Linked DNA regions of Homo sapiens: region 1 is linked to region 2. The links come from fine-mapping of genetic effects on gene expression. Tissue or cell type: cerebellum. Region 2 holds a variant in brackets; the other region holds the start of a gene. All regions are shown on one strand. Distances are from middle to middle.

What was found. PIP is the estimated chance that this variant, and not a neighbour inherited with it, causes the effect.
Region 1: COL28A1 starts here. The variant in region 2 is fine-mapped to the expression of COL28A1 in cerebellum (GTEx, PIP above 0.99).

The regions. Positions count from the first base shown.
Region 1 is chr7:7,531,311-7,539,591 of GRCh38, reverse strand. It overlaps COL28A1 (collagen type XXVIII alpha 1 chain), which reads left to right and starts at 3,719. Exons shown (of 35, transcript NM_001037763.3): 1 at 3,719-3,842; 2 at 6,680-6,840; 3 at 7,688-8,244. The coding sequence starts at 6,717.
Region 2 is chr7:8,196,347-8,204,346 of GRCh38, reverse strand. The region is part of intron 6 of ICA1 (islet cell autoantigen 1); the gene reads left to right. Among named protein-coding and RNA genes, the nearest start is that of ICA1, 62 kb to the left of the region's middle. The variant G/A (reference allele first, on the strand shown) is at 4,890.

The DNA of each region.
Region 1 (8,281 bases), 660 kb after region 2:
TTTGTTGACAAATAAGACCAATACAGTTTTGGTGTTTGCCATGGTTTGCATATTTGCCCCCTCCAAACCTCGTGTTGAAATTTCATCCCCACTGTTGGAAGTGGGGCCTGATGGGAAACGTTTGGGTCATGTGGGTGGATCCCTTATGAATGACTTAATGCCATCCTTGCGGTAATGAGTGTGTTCTCTCTGTATTAGTTCCTGGGGGAGCTGATTCTTTAAAAGAGTCTGACACCTCTCTCCCTGCTCTCTTGCTCCCTCTTACCATATGATCTGCACACGCTGGTCCCCTTTCACCTTCTGCCATGAGTAGAAGCAGTCAATGGCCCTCACCAGAAGCAGATGCTGGTGTCATGCTTCTTGCATAGACTGCAGAATTGTAAGCCAAATAAACCTCTTTTCTTTATAGATTACTCAGCCTTAGGTATTCCTTTATAGCAACACAAAATGGACTAAGACAGTGTTCCTCTAATTACTGATGAAGGAGTTGAGAGAATGCCTAGGTCATATTCTGGGTCCAAGGATAATGAATCCCAGAAATTTCAGAGCTTTGGGGCAGGTGTTAGAAATTCTACTATATCAAGCTTTTCTACTGACAAAAAGAAGAAAGAGAAAGAAAGAAAGAAAAAGAAAAAAAGAAAGAAAGAAAGGAAAGGATCTTCAAGAACAAATTTCTTCAAATCAGGTACGAAGGTCATTAATTTCTTCCTTGTTAGTTGGTAATGTTTTTTTTTTTCTACTCTAGATCAGCAGTGTGGGAGGTGGCTAAAATAGGGAGAAGCTTGTGAAACTATACTATGCCTTAATCTTGGTCAAAATATATAACTTTGATTTGTTACCAGCCTTTTTTTGTGTGTATTTCTATGACTTCATGCAGATACAATTCTCTGAAATATGTAAGTCCTAGCAGACTTGTCTCTTTTTAAATGATTCTAGGACCCCAAAATATCATCACCACTGAAATTAAGATGTTGGCACTGGTACTAGAATCAATAAACACAATGCAGATGCTACTATGGTAGCATATTAAAAGAATTTGAAAAAGTTGAAAAAAGATTTTCATCTAGCAGAGCTTTGGAGAAGAGCAATTTATTGTATCACAGACCTCAAGTGACTGATAAACACTAAAAATTACTTCTAATAATCATTTATTTCACAAATATGACTGCTTACTCTGGGCTATTTATAGTAGTAACAATGAAAATAGTGTGCTATATTTCTTCCATAAAGACTTTTACTACAAAATAACTGTCAGAAGGGCATGGGCTCCACGTTGCCTTTTTCTAGTCATTATGGTTATCCATGCTCTCTTATTTGTTCTGGTGTAAGTCCAATAGCATACTAATTCAAGACCATCTGTTGGGATTAAGATTGTGGTGCATTGTTTCTCTGGGTGCAAAACTAATTGTCTTTTATAGATTGATGAAACTGAAGATTTTATTTTGCATAATCTTCCCAATTAATTTAGTGCTGATTTTCACGCTTGAGAATGAGAGGTGGCAAATCTTTGGTTTGAGTTACCCTATTTAATGTTGGAGAATGAAAGGGAATGGATGACTAAGTTGGACTCCAACCTCCCACCAACTTTAATCAAAACAGCTCCAAGGCAGGAGGGCTTTAGTCCATTTCCCCCATCTAGGAATCACCTGTTTGCTTCTTAGTGGCATTATTATTCTGCATGTTTTTAACCTGCCTCAGCAAAAAGAGAGTTGACCTGAAAAGATGCTACTTCCTTGTCTCTTGATTCTCATCTTACAAAAGTAAAAAGTGTGACTAACACCCATAGGCTATCAGGTAAATACATGGTTGTTCCCTAGGAAATTCCGTTGTTATTTCTGCATTATACCCACCGTTTCTTCTTTCTGTTACCAAAGCCTCACAAAACTTCCTCAGTTCCTCGAAACCTGTTTTGTGAGGAGGAGACAGTGAAAACACAGACGTTCGCATAGATACTTAATGATGCAGTAGTTGTTATAAGTGAGGCTCACAGGTCTTACCAGCCTGAGTTAAAAGTTCATTTTGCCATTCTCTGGTTTTAGTATGACAGCGGACAAGTTACTGAACCTCTCTCTGCCTCCATCTTGGAAAAATTCGAATTCTTACAACATCTACTAAGTACAAGGGGTCCTGGAATAATATTTTGTTCAATGTCATTTTGTTATAACATTGATGAGAAAAAAAATTCAATTCCTGGGCCAGGCTCACTGTGTGGAGTTGACATGTTTTCCCCATGTCTGTGTGGGTTTTCTCCAGGTCCTGGAGTTTCCTCCCACATCCCAAAGCTTTGCCCATTAGATGCATTGGTGTGTCTACATGGTGCCTGTCTGAGAGAGTGGGTGGGTGTATGAGTGCCCTTTGACAGTACTGCATCCTGTCCAGGGCTGGTTCCTGCCTTGTATCCTCAGCTGCTGGGACAGGATCTGGTCAACCGTGACCCTGAACTGGAATATGCAGGTAAGCAGTTATCTTGTTTTTATCAATCTTTCATAAATGTATATATAGCTTAGATTTATTTCAATGTTTATTATTAGAGGTGTTTTGAGTATTTAGAGGTTTAGTGATGTTTTTGTGACTAGGAATATGCCATAAGAGCTTAACTCTTATTTATATCAATTAGCTCTTGGGAAAATTGTCTTCATTATCAATTGTTTCACTTTATGTCACAGTTTCCAGAACCTACAGAGGACATTAAGTGAGGACTTACTGTATATAGGTGGTTGTGCTTGTGAAGGATTAAATGAGGTAATGTGTGTGAAGCACTCAGGACAGTGCCTAGCACCTGGTAAGTGTCCATGAATTGGAGGCTATTATTGCTGTAATAAGGAAATTCATACACATTAAAATGGCTAAGAAAGTTCATTTTAAATAACCGTAACATGCACATTTGTATTGCTTTCTCGGATGATCTTGCTATTCTCTATTTCAGAGGAAGTCCGTGGAGAAGCCTGCCTGTTAGCTGTCTAGGGGTCAGGTGGCTTCTTGGCAGTATATATTACATGATAAACATTGACTTAATATGGACCATAACCACAAGGTAGAAAATAGGGAAACAGGGAGTGGAAAAACCACAGTGATCCTTTCCTAGAGAGAGACCAAAATATTAACCGCTGTAAACCTCTCATGTTACAGTTCGAACACATCTTAATAAATGATTAAATCTACTCTCTCATTTCATAAGTGGGGAACTGAAGCCCCCATAAAAGTTAGGGGCAGAACTATGACTATACTCAGACCACTCTTTCCCTGTATATTATATATACCTTTTATTATAAAAAATTTCAAAAATCACAGAAATACAAAGACTAGAACAATGCACACCTATGTACTCATCATCCAGCTTTAATAACAATCAAACTGTTACCTCTCTTAAAAAAACAGCTTTGATTCTGAGTCTGGTGTCATTTATACTCCTTCACAGAGATGTTCAGAACCAGTATCTTAGAGCACATCCCCCAGGCAAAGAAATGTAGCAATAAAAAGAGAAGGACATAGCATGAGAAAAAAAGGCAGGCTGTCAACCAATGCCTAAAATGTAGAAAGTTCTCTCAAGTTGTTTTTACAATAGTCTGGAAAACACAGTCTCATTCTGAAAGGACACTGTTCCTTTAAATTGCTTACTGATCCCACCCAGATCTTGCACCCTGGCCAAATGCCTGACCACTCTTGCTTTGACTTAGTCGAATAAACATGAACAAAAGACTGCAAAAGATCCTAAAGCAAAGACACTTTTATTTCCCACAGAACAGAACAATATCAAATAGCTAACTTCACCCCCAACCACAGTCCTTGCTGTTGGCATTTACTCAACTAGTCTTTAATTCCTGTTTGACAAACTTTATAAGGTAAGACATAACAGATTTATTTTAGTCACTTGAAATCAGATAGGACCATCAAGGAACTGTGGAAGACTAAATGACTTACTTACATAATTATTAGGTGAGAAAGCTTGTCAATAGTTTGTATTCTCTGCAATTACTTCAAATCAATTATTAGAAAAATATTAACATTGTTAAAATGTAGAAATTTAAAACTTAAAATTATTTTGAAATGGATTTTTAATTTACAGTCTTCTAAATTGTTTTACAACGATGTTAATATATTTTAGGACATCTTTTTCTTAATTTGGAACAGGGTTTACAATTCAGAATTAGTTATAGAATACTTTACAACTTGGCTAATTTGTCAATTTGAATAAAGTCTTTATTCAATCATTTTCTATTTGTGTAGAAACTGAGATGCAAACATTGTAACTAAAGTTGGTGAACTCTGATATAAGATCATTTTATTTTTGAAAAATTATAAAAAATAAAGTATCTTGGATTTATTTACTGATCCTGATATTTACCCCAAATAAATTTTAGGCCAAAAGTAAAACTACGGTATTTGATTAATAATTATGATTGTTTCTGCATTTATAAAATGTAACCTATAGTAAACACAGAGGTTCACATTTCTTTCACTTAACTAATGGCACTGTTTCCTCTGAAACCTATTTTGCTTGTACGTGACATCAGAAAGAGAGAAAGGTGAGAATTATTAAAAACAGAGGCAAAATAAAACATGGTAAAAAGTGATTAGAAATGAGTGGGCTCTCAAGATGCCAAATTAATAAACGAGAAAGATATTTCAGGGAAGCAGTAGAACTAACAAGCTAGAGAAACAAATCTAGAGAGGTATGAAAATGTCCTCTGGCTACAATAGGGAAACAGAAAGAAATAACAAGACTTTGGTTTGGGAGAGCTAGATTAACAATGTCAGAGCAAATAAGAACAAAATATGAGATACTGGGATTATTGTCAATGGAAAAGTTATGTTTGTGAATATCATATATACAGGGATCAGGTACAAATTCATGATTATATGCCAAGAAAACAGTAAGAGCAGGTGCTTAGTTTTGGGAAAAGATAAATCTTTATTTAAAGCCAGTATTTCTAAAACCTTACATGAAGGGTTTTGAAGAGTTGCTTGATTATGTTGCTTATAAAATCTTGCTCAGTTCTCAATGGAATTCAGTTCTCAGCCTCTTATTTCCAGAACTTCTGAGATGTTCCTTATGGTATGAACTCAACCAAAGAGAAAAGTCATATGTAATACCATGGCCATGGTGTTATTCCCTTTCCCCTTTGAAAATGCAATAACAACTGTGTTTTTCACATAGCCTTATCTTTACACTAACCTTCAGACTTAAAGTTGTACATCATTTATTTTTTTCCTTGGTTAGCAAAGGGACAACTTGAGGAGAGATGGCCTTTGTGTGTTCTGTTTCCTTAGCACATTTCTTGGTTTTGTTTTGTTTTTAATACCCAGCTGTCTTTACATTTTAGTATACCTTGTCTGAGGATCAGTTGGCATTTGGCCAATTGCTACACAAGATGTTTGGTCATACCTATCCAAAGTTCTTTTAATACACTTCCAGCTGGATGATGCTATGTGAGGAGCAGACTGTGGCATGAAGCCATCCATTGGTCCTCTCCTAACCCAACAGTTTTGTTTCCCTTTGGGGTTTATCCATCTGGCATGTATGAAAAAAGTCAGTCTCCATCTCACTCCTCACTGCCTTTGCATATATTTCCACTCTCTACTCAGAGTCTGGAAAAATCGTGCTCATGATTTCCCAGATTCTTATCCCCTAAAGGCAAGGTGCCAAAGAAGGAAAATGTGATTCCTTTTCCAGAACTCCTGAAGTCAATAAAGTTTCAGCAGGCAAGCATTTTTAAGCCATACTAAGTATTGATTCGAAATAAGCTTTCTCGTTCCCATTCTCTTGGGTATACTGAGGCAGCAACACATGAGTCTTCTCCTCCCAGGGAAATCTGTCAGTTTAAGAGTCAGTTGGTGTGTAGCTAGGCATATTGACTGATGAAGATTGAGGATTTTAATACAGAATTAGATTTTTCGTTGTTAATCCACCCAGAAAAATAGTTTCACGGGGCTATTCAGAGGGGGTGCTTCTTGGCTTTAAGTCCCGTTTCTGTCCATTAGTTCTTTTAGCCATCACTGGAAGAAGAGTGTTGCTTTTAAGCAAATCTATTATTTTTGCTCTCATACTCTTTTGATTCATTGCATATGCAGCTTTGAACCCCTGGTGGAGACAAAGTTTCCAAAGCTAGGGTAGAAAAGAGAGATGGGGTTCTATGGAAACAGAAGGGTCGTTTAATTTTTACCTTGACCTCTGAACTCACTGAAGTTATGTGTGTAGTATTAAGCCTGAAAGGGTGGTGGTTGTCTACAGTTCTACAAAATACTAGATTTGTCAGGAATCAGTTATAATGAAAGTGAATGAAATGACCATATAGCAATCTGAATTCCCCCTGAAGAATTTGGAAATGTCAAAGCAGACCCTGTGATTGAACCACAGTAATCATATAGAGCGGGATTGAAATGTTTTTAAATGGCTCTCCCAACTCTATGCTCCTCAAAATACAATGCGGAATTAAGAATACTTAAATATAGTTCTTTGAATATATAGAAATATTCACTAATAAATGTTTGGTCATGGTGCCATGATTTATTTGGATTGAAATCTTTCAAAATCTCAATGTGAATATTTTTCTAGAAATATGAATGAAAACCTCTTTTTTCCAGTCACATGCCAGTTTTCAACCCTGCTGGCTTGAAATTTAAAAATAACAAACACCATATTTTATTAAAGTATTTGTAACTGACTTTTCTATTAAAGGTGCTACAAGACAGATGATTTTTCACCATCTACCATAATGTGGAACAGATATTTTGTCTTCTATCTCCTGCTTTTGTCAGCGTTTACGAGTCAAACAGTATCCGGACAAAGAAAGAAAGGACCAAAATCAAATTTGCTTGCAAGGAAAAGTGATGTCCAGGGTAAAAAAAAAAAAATTGTTTGTTTTTAAGTTTAGCCTGTTAAAAATACTTATGTGAATTTTTCTAAATAGCATTTGATATAAATAGCAAGCCATATACATGTATACATGTGATAGTCTACTTTGATAAAATTATATGATGATAATATACCTTACATACTTATAGCACATCAGAGTCTTTAATAAGAGCACTTGTGCACTTATTATCTCATTTGAGCCTCACAGTAACCTTGTAAAATAGGCAGGACGGAGATTGCCACTCATAGTGTAGATTAAAAAAATTGAGGTCTTAACAGGTCGAGTGGCATACTCAAGGCCATAGGCAAATTAACCACTGAGACACAGAGCTGGGATTTAAACTTAAGTTGTGTTTAAGTTAGGTTTCTTCTCCACTTACTCTTGGTATAGGGGGTATAGTCATTTTCTCCCTTGATTTCAAGAAAGTTTAAAAAAAAATAGGGACTCACCAATATGACACAACCTGAGAATTAGAGTATCATTTACTTCTAGACAACTATGCTCAGTGTTAGTTGGATTTTTAAAATGTGATGCATCTTGACTTCCCATTTCCTCCCACTTTCAGCAGGTTTAACATTGAAAAGATGCTCAGAATAAAAGATATCTTATTTATTTTTAATTTGCATGATTTTACAAGGAGAAAATAATTCATAAACTTAGACATTTAGTTTTTTACAATTGAAGCCTTCTGTCCAACGTGTCTCTCTTTCTCTCCTCACGCTGCTCTCAACACCAAACAATATACAACACACCACTTCAGGGCTTTCCGTATGCAAATTTGTTTCATGATAGGAATAATTATTTTGCCTAACCTGTTTATTCTGTTTCAGGCTCCATTTGTTTCATAGATATTGTCTTCATCGTGGACAGCTCTGAAAGTTCTAAAATTGCCCTCTTTGATAAACAGAAAGATTTTGTGGATAGCTTGAGTGACAAGATTTTCCAATTGACTCCTGGTCGCTCCTTGGAATATGACATCAAACTGGCAGCCCTTCAGTTTAGCAGCTCTGTCCAAATTGATCCACCTTTTTCTTCCTGGAAGGACCTGCAGACATTTAAGCAGAAGGTCAAGTCTATGAATTTAATAGGGCAAGGTACCTTCTCTTATTATGCCATTTCCAATGCCACTAGGCTACTTAAGAGAGAAGGGCGTAAGGATGGTGTGAAAGTGGTTTTGCTGATGACTGATGGCATCGACCATCCAAAGAATCCAGATGTTCAAAGTATTTCTGAAGATGCCAGAATTTCAGGAATATCATTTATCACCATTGCACTTTCTACGGTAGTCAATGAAGCCAAACTTCGTTTGATTTCTGGGGATTCATCCAGTGAACCCACTTTACTGTTGAGTGATCCAACCCTTGTAGATAAAATTCAAGATCGTCTGGTAGGTACCTAATGGGTTGATTATACAGTTATCATCA
Region 2 (8,000 bases):
CCATACGTGTGAACTAGAATTTGAACCCAAGCCTCTGACTCTAGAGTCAGTGCTCTTCTCGGCTTTCCAGCCCCATATTACTACAATCCGATAAACAGATCCTTGTGTGATATTAGGTTACTATTGGAAAAAAAGGTTTCTGGGGTAGAGGAGACCTGGCTTCCTGTTCAAGTAGCAGTCACATCTTCCAGCACATGCCACGTCCTCTGAACTCGTTTTTCTGACCCCAGTGTTTCATGTTCCAAGCACCCTTAAGGAGTATTTGGGCTTTTTTTTTTCCTTCTCACCAATCTCTCTGTCTCTTGAACATCCAGTCACATTTCTGGGTTTGGCGTTTCACATTTCTGTTCTACCTTATTCTGGGAGTCGTTTTTTGAGGTGAAATGGCAGGTCTAGAGCCTGAATTCCTTGGGGTCTGTCTGGCGCCTGAATCCTGCAAGAGTAGGCTCAACTCAGGGACCCAAAGCTGAGGCTCATGGTTGGAAAGTAGACATCACAAAGGCCAGCATCCAGCAAAGGATCCTCTGCAAATTGCCCCACAGGTTTAAAGCCTGTCACTGTTGAAAGGTTTGCGGTCATAAGAGGAAAGTAGCAGAAGCCCTACAGCAAATAGGCACAGAAAATTAACAGGCCCCCTGCAGACATTTCCAGTGAAGAACATCTCAACTCACTCTGAATTAGGGCCTCTCTGGCCTGAGTTGAGTGTAAGAATCCTCTGAGAAGCAAGTTGGATGTGGAGAATCCTGGCTTCTACCTAAGGATTTTGATTCTGGAGGCCTGGGGTGGGGCTCAGAGATCTGACTTTTAATGGGCTCCCAGATAATTCCTTTTCTGGGATCCATAGATCACACCTTGAGAAATACTTTCTCAGAGCACCATCGTGAAATAGCTGATGTTCATGATGATGACTGATCCATCAAAAAAGGCAATTTTGCTCTATTTTAGAAGATAGACATTTAATAAGAGGTATCTGACTTATATGAAGATTTCTTATGTCTTAACTTTTTTTTTAATAGAATATGCTTTACCTACATGGAAAAGTCACTTAAACCACTGGATTTCCCAGGAACTCTACTATATTAAGGCTTAATGTGCTTTTTAGTACTTACATGCATGTTTACCTAAGGCTTAGAGCCTAGAAATTTGTATATCACAGACACTCAAAAATTACTTATTTTGTTTATCTAGAATCAGTACTAACCTTTCTAACGAAATCTCTTCTCCTGCTTCAGCTAAAGCCCCCTTGGTGTTCTCTAGGTTGATACAGAAAACTGAAAGAGCTAGAATGGAGCCCCAGGTTAGTTAATATCTATTATTGAATACTCAGCAGCAAACAATTCTGACAGTTAATGTACCCATGTTAATCACAAGGAATTTGCCAGGAGCACTCTGACACTGTCCTGTCCTGATATGCATGTTAAAATTGCCCACAGGTTCACAAAGGAATCCTCCCCTCTGCATTTTCCCCCATTCGTGCGGTGTGTCTATTGCCTATAGCTGGTTCTTCCTCTTAGGAGTAATCAGCCTAAGACAGAGCAGGCTCACCACCAGGTCCTACAGATGCCTCCATCATTTTACTCTGCAGTTTGTTACAGCTAACATTATTCTTAAGAAATATCTTCCTGGCTTGGAGGTAATTTCTGTGGTGAGTACCAAGATGTTTACTAAGCTGAGAAAAAGTCAAGGGTGATATAAAAACAGTAATTCTCATTCATCCCCAGAATGGCATTTCTGTGCTTGTGGGAATGCACTAGAGGTTCTGAAATCATAAATGAAGAATGTCAGAAATACAGTACTTTGACATTTTTTGACAAAGATGTAGTTAGCCATTCTTGAACAGAATAAAAGAAACTTTGACATTGAATGTAAAGTAGAAGTGATAACAAAATTAGCACATTTAAAAAGTTTATCATGTATCAGCTACAGTTCTAAGCAATTTACATGAATGGGCTCGTTAAAACTCCCCAAGAGGAAGACACTATGATCTCCTTTTCACAGATGAGGATTTTGACGCTTAGAGAGGTTACATAACTGTCTCAATGTGACACAGTCAGAACATGTCAGGGCCAGGTGGAAGGGATTATAATTTGACTCAGACCACATTGACACATGCATCCCCTTATTTTCTGGAACTAAAGCAGTTTCTTCATGAGCAGCATGATGGGGTCTTCTACACTTGTCAGTTGAATAAGGTTAAGAAGCCTCTGTTGTTTCAGTTTAAATGTTGAGTCAATCAAAATTTGGCTTCCTCTGTACTGTTTTAAATCATCTCTTTTTGGATGCCCTTTCAGAAGCATTCTCTGCCCCAGGAGGGAGGGCATTGGGCTGACTGTGTCCTGGGGGTAGGCAGGGGACATGGTGTCCTTGAGGCCACTCCCTGTCCCCCGGTTTCTTGCTTATCTTGCTGCAGCATCTGGGCTTGCATGGTGAGTTCCTGAAACCTGTGGCCAGGGGAATGCCTGGTCTCCTTCCTCAGCCCTAGGAATGTTCTAAAATCCTCAGCCTCCTTCCTCTGATGAATCTCCCTAATGGCAACTCTGATTACCTTGGACTTCCATTTGGCTGCTAACCCAGTGCCATTCCCTGGCAAGTTTACTGGCCAGCACCCTCAGCCACCTCCCTCTTCTTTCCATAAAACATAGAAGATCTTCTGAATTTCTTCTCCATACCACAAAAGCTTATGGAGAAACCTGGGAGCTAAACTCGGCCCTTTTTCATCAACTGCACTGCTTTATTTTAACGCAGCTGACCCTACTTGGAGCCAAGTCAGGCCTGAGAGGCAACCCTCTTGCAGACTCCCAAACAGGCGGTGGGGCAGCTCATCTTCTGCCTTTGGTTTTTCCCTCAGGGCTTTTCCTCCCTGAGACAAAGTTGGGCTCCATGTGTCTTTAAAAGGCCCAGTTCCCTGATTGAAGGCCCCAGCCCAGAAACGGGTGGGCAGGATTTGTCCCTTCCTTTCTCTTGTCATTAACCCCATCATACCACCACCATAATACGAAGTGTAGGATCAAGTCCACCTGCTAAAGTGGAAGATAAACACTTTCTAATCCTTTAAAAAGCCCGAGTTTCAAGTTTATTGTCTTGCTGCAGACTTGAGAACCCAATTTTGGGCTGTCAGAAGCTGGAGAGTACAACTTTCTTTTTGTATTTCTCCTGCAACAATCCAGAGGCACAGCCAGGGAGAGGTATGTCTCAGGCTGGCAATGGAGGAGGTCAGGCACATAGACATGCAAATAGAAAACCACGTTGATATATTACAAAAATATTGCCCCAATTTTCTATGACTAAAACACAAGCATTGTCACTCTAGAAAGTATGTTTTTATCTGCCATACTCATTGACCACTAAAGTAAATGAAATTTGTGGGGTTTTTTGGCATCAAGAGAATAGAGCAGTGGTAAAAGTAGATCAGACATGAAACACTTCAGTCCAGAATATGTCTACAGTTACAAAAGGAGCCAAAGCTAGACATGGCTTTTCTGAGAAATAGACAGTGAGAAATTAGAAAAGAATGATAAATTATGAAACTATCCTGTTTGGCTGGACATTTAGTAGATGGATCCAGGATTACCAGCTCAAAACTCAACTAATATTCATAACTGTGGCTTAAATCTTCATGAAACTCTTTCATTATACTGAAGAATCTAAAATGATTTTCAGTAGTCAACTACAGTCTAGTAAATCCAGTTTCCTATATTCAAGTGTTCTTTTTGCTCCCTTTCCATGAGACCTCATCGGTCTCATCTCTGATTCCCAGCAAGGCCCCTTCCATACTTGTCAACCTTCACATGGCATGTGCTTGCTCTTATGTCCGTGCCCTTCATGATTGCGTCCCCCAAACAGGAAGTCAATCTGTTCCTTTATTTCCTCCATGTCAACTTATGGCCACTTCTTTAATCTGGCATAAAATCCAAACTTCCACGAGTTCACTTTTTCATTAATATAGTACTTTGTAATTGTTCTAATATATTGTTTTGTAATTGTTCTTTTTTTTTTTTTTTTTTTTTTGCTCAACTGTGCTAAAGGTTCTCAAAGACTTTAAGAAGCCCTAATTACTTCTGTCATCCCGGAAACACATGGCACTATGCTTTAACTGAATAAATGTTCAGTTGATGTACTTTTTAATTTTTTAAATTTTATTTTTTGTGGGTACATAGTAGGTATATGTATTTATGAGGTACCCGAGATGTTTTGATACAGGCGTGCAATGCATAATAATCACATCGTGTAAAATGGGGTATCCATTTCCTCAAGCATTTATCTTTTGTGTTATAAACAATTCAATTATACTCTTTTAGTTACTTTAAAATGTACAATTAAATTATTATTCACTGTAGTCCCCCTGTTGTGCTATCACATACTAGGTCTTACTCATTTTTTCTATTTTTTTGTACCCATTAGCCATCCCGACTTCCCTTCCCACTTCCCATTACCCTTCCCAGCCTCTGGTAACCATCCTACTCTCTGTCTCCATGAGTTCAATTGTTTTGATGTTTAGGTTCCACAAATAAGTGAGAACATGCAATGTTTGTCTTTCTGTGCCTGGCTTATTTCACTTAACATAATGACCTCCAGTTCCATCCATGTTGTTGCAAACGACAGGAATTCATTCTTTTGTTTTTTGTTTTTGTTTTGAGACAGAGTCTCGCTCTGTCATCAGTGTGGAGCACAGTGGCATGATCTTGGCTCACTGCAACCTCTGCCTCCTGGGTTCAGGCAATTCTCCTGCCTCAGCCTCCTGAGTAGCTGGGATTACAGGCACCTGTCACCACACCCGGCTAATTTTTTTTATTTTTTTAGTAGAGACAGGGTTTCACCATGTTGGCCAAGCTGGTCTCAAACTCCTGACCTCAAGTGATCCGCCCGCCTTGGCCTCCCAAAGTGCTGGG[G/A]TTACAGGCGTGAGCCACCATGCCTGGCCAGGAACTCATTCTTTTTATGGCTGAATAGTACTCTATTGTGTATAAGTACCACATTTTCTTTATCCATTCATCTATTGATGGACACTTAGGTTGCTTCCAAATCATAGCTGTAGTGAACAGCCAAGAGCCTGTATTTGCTGCAACAAATACAGGAGTGCAGATATGTCTTTGATATACTGATTTCCTTTCTTTTGGGTATATACCCTGCAGTGGGATTGTTGGATCATATGGTAGCTCTACTTTTAGTTTTCTGAGGAACCTCCAGACAGTTCTCCACAATGGTTGTACTGATTTATCAGGGTTCCCCTTTTCTCCACATCCTTGCCAGAATTTGTTATTGCCTGTCTTTTGGATAAAGGCCATTTTAACTGGGGTGAGATGATCTTTCATTGTCATTTTGATTTGCATTTCTCTGATGATGAACGATGTTGAGCACTTTTTTGTATGCCTGTTTGCCATTTCTGTGTCTTGAGAAATGTCTATTCAAATCTTTTGCCCACTTTTATATCAGATTATTAGATTTTTTCCTATTGAGTTATTTGAGCTTCTTATATACTCTAGTTATTAATCCATTGTCAGGTAGTTTGCACATTATTTTCTCCCATTCTGTGGGTCATCTCTTCACGTTGTTGTTTCCTTTGCTGTGCAGAACTGCTCCCTTTATTGTCACTGAGGCTGGAAACCTAAAGAACATCTTGATGCCTTACTCTCTCACACCTCCTACATCCAACAAATCATCAGATTAGCATATTTTGACCTTCCAAATATTTTCCAGATCTATGTCTTCTTAAGTCTGTCATCTCGGCTCTTGTTCAGGCCTTATGACGCTCGCCTGGACCACCAGTCTCTGGCTTGGCTTCCTGCTTCAAGTCTGCCTTCCACATACCCCAGTGTGACTGAAATGAAACCCAAATCCAACCACATCAACGTCTCTGCAAAGTAACTGCCAAGGCCACAGGATTGAGTTCAAGCTCCTCAACATCCCACAAAGCCCTCTGTGGTTTCACTCTGGTCCAAATCTAGGGTTTTAATTCACACTATTTTCAGCCTCATATTTTCTGTTGCAATAACATCAAGCTACTTGATTTTCTCCAAACAATGCTTTGCTCATATTGTCTCCTCTGCTAGGAGACAGGTTGAGGTTGATACCATCTCAGCAGGTATGTGGATGATTTCCCTTCAACCTGGAGAAAGAGAATAGAAGTCCACAAGAGAAGGAGCATGAAGTAGCACAGTGTGCAGCGCAGGATGGGTGGATGTTTGTGACAATGGGTAACATTTATGCAAACCACATTTTCTGCCATAGGCCATTAGCTTGTATTCTGCTTCCATATTTTGGCTTGTGGTATACCACAATCTGTATTGTTTGTTACATACACAACTTTTAGAAATTTTAATTTTCAAAAGAAAGTTGATAGAAATACATCATTCCAAAATATAGGGAATACTCTTCTGATAAAATCATTATGTATAACATATATTTTCGGTTGATTCCCTAACATCCATTCCATCCTATCACTTCCACTTCCAAAGGTATCCAAACCATCAGTTCATAAAACTTTGAGAGTTCTGAATTAACCAGGTAGTTTTTAGGTTTTTTCCATTGCCAGATTTGGATTTAGCTTTCTTGGGTCTGTTCATTTAGTTATAAGTCATCTATCTACTTTCCAGCTTCCAACGTTTAGTAGTGGTAGCTCTTTTCCCATCTTCTTTGTTCTCGTTTGTGCCCCCTTAGAGTTTTTGGTGGGCTTTCAGGGTTGAATAGAGCTAAATGGATGGCTTCCACCCTTCATCTTTAATAGAAAGACTCCATTATTATTATTATTATTATTATTATTATTATTATTATTATTTCTTCTTTCTTCTTTTTTTTTTTTTTTCTGAGACGAAGTCCCACTCTATTGCCTAAGCTGGAGTGCAGTGGTGTGATCACTGCAACCTCCACCTCCCGGGTTCAAGTGAGTCTTCTGCCCCAGTCTCCCGAGTAGCTGGGACTACAGGCACGCACCGCCATGCCCGGCTAATTTTTGTATTTTTAGTAGAGATGGGGTTTCACTATGTTGGCCAGGCTTGTCTTGAAGTCCTGACCTTGTGATCCGCCCGCTTCGGCCTCCCAAAGTGCTGGGATTACAGGCGTGAGCCACCACACCCAGCCTCTTCTTTTTTTTAATGTGGTTGGCAAATGGTAGACATTTTTTAAGGGTCTGAAGCATAATTTTTATTATCTTTTCTCATCTTTACCATCTGTCTTTTTTTTTTCAGCATCTACATTAAGGATATACATCTGTCTTTTTTACCCCTTCCCAAAGACATTTTTTAAATGCTCATGTGTAGAAAAATTATATATATTAATATATCTATTAGTCTGCTAATAAAGATATACCCAAGGCTGGGTAATTTGTAAAGGGAAGAAGTTTAATTGACTCACAGTTGCACATGGCTGGGGAGGCCTCACAATCGTGGCGGAAGGTGAATGAGGAGCAAAGTCACGTGTCACATGGCGGGAGGAAAGAAAGCTTGTCCAGGGGATCTCCCATTTATAAAACCATCAGATCTCGTGAGATATATTCACTACCACAAGAAAAGTATGGGGGAACTGCCGTGATTCATTTATCTCCACCTGGCCCCTGTGATAATTGAATTACTACAATTCAAGGTAAGATTTGTGTGGGAATGCAGCCAAACCACATCAATATATTATATATTATATGTAAAGTTAATAGACTATTTTAAGAGCAATTTTTAGCTTCCCAGCAAAATTGAAAGATACAGAGTTTCTGCATACTCACTCCCCGCTTCCCAACCACCCCACAACACACATACCCAGTGCATACACACAGCCTCCCTCACCATCAGCATCCCCCATCAGTGCAGTACATTTTTTGCAATTAATGAGCCAAGGTTGACACATTATTATCAACCAAAGTCTAGAGTTTACATTAGGGTTCACTCTTTGTGTTGTAGATTCTATGTTTTGACAAATGTATAGTGACATGTACCCACCATTCTAGTAGCATATGGGTAGTTTCATTGCCCGAGCAGTCATCTGTGCTTCACCTATTCATCCTTCTATCTCCCTGA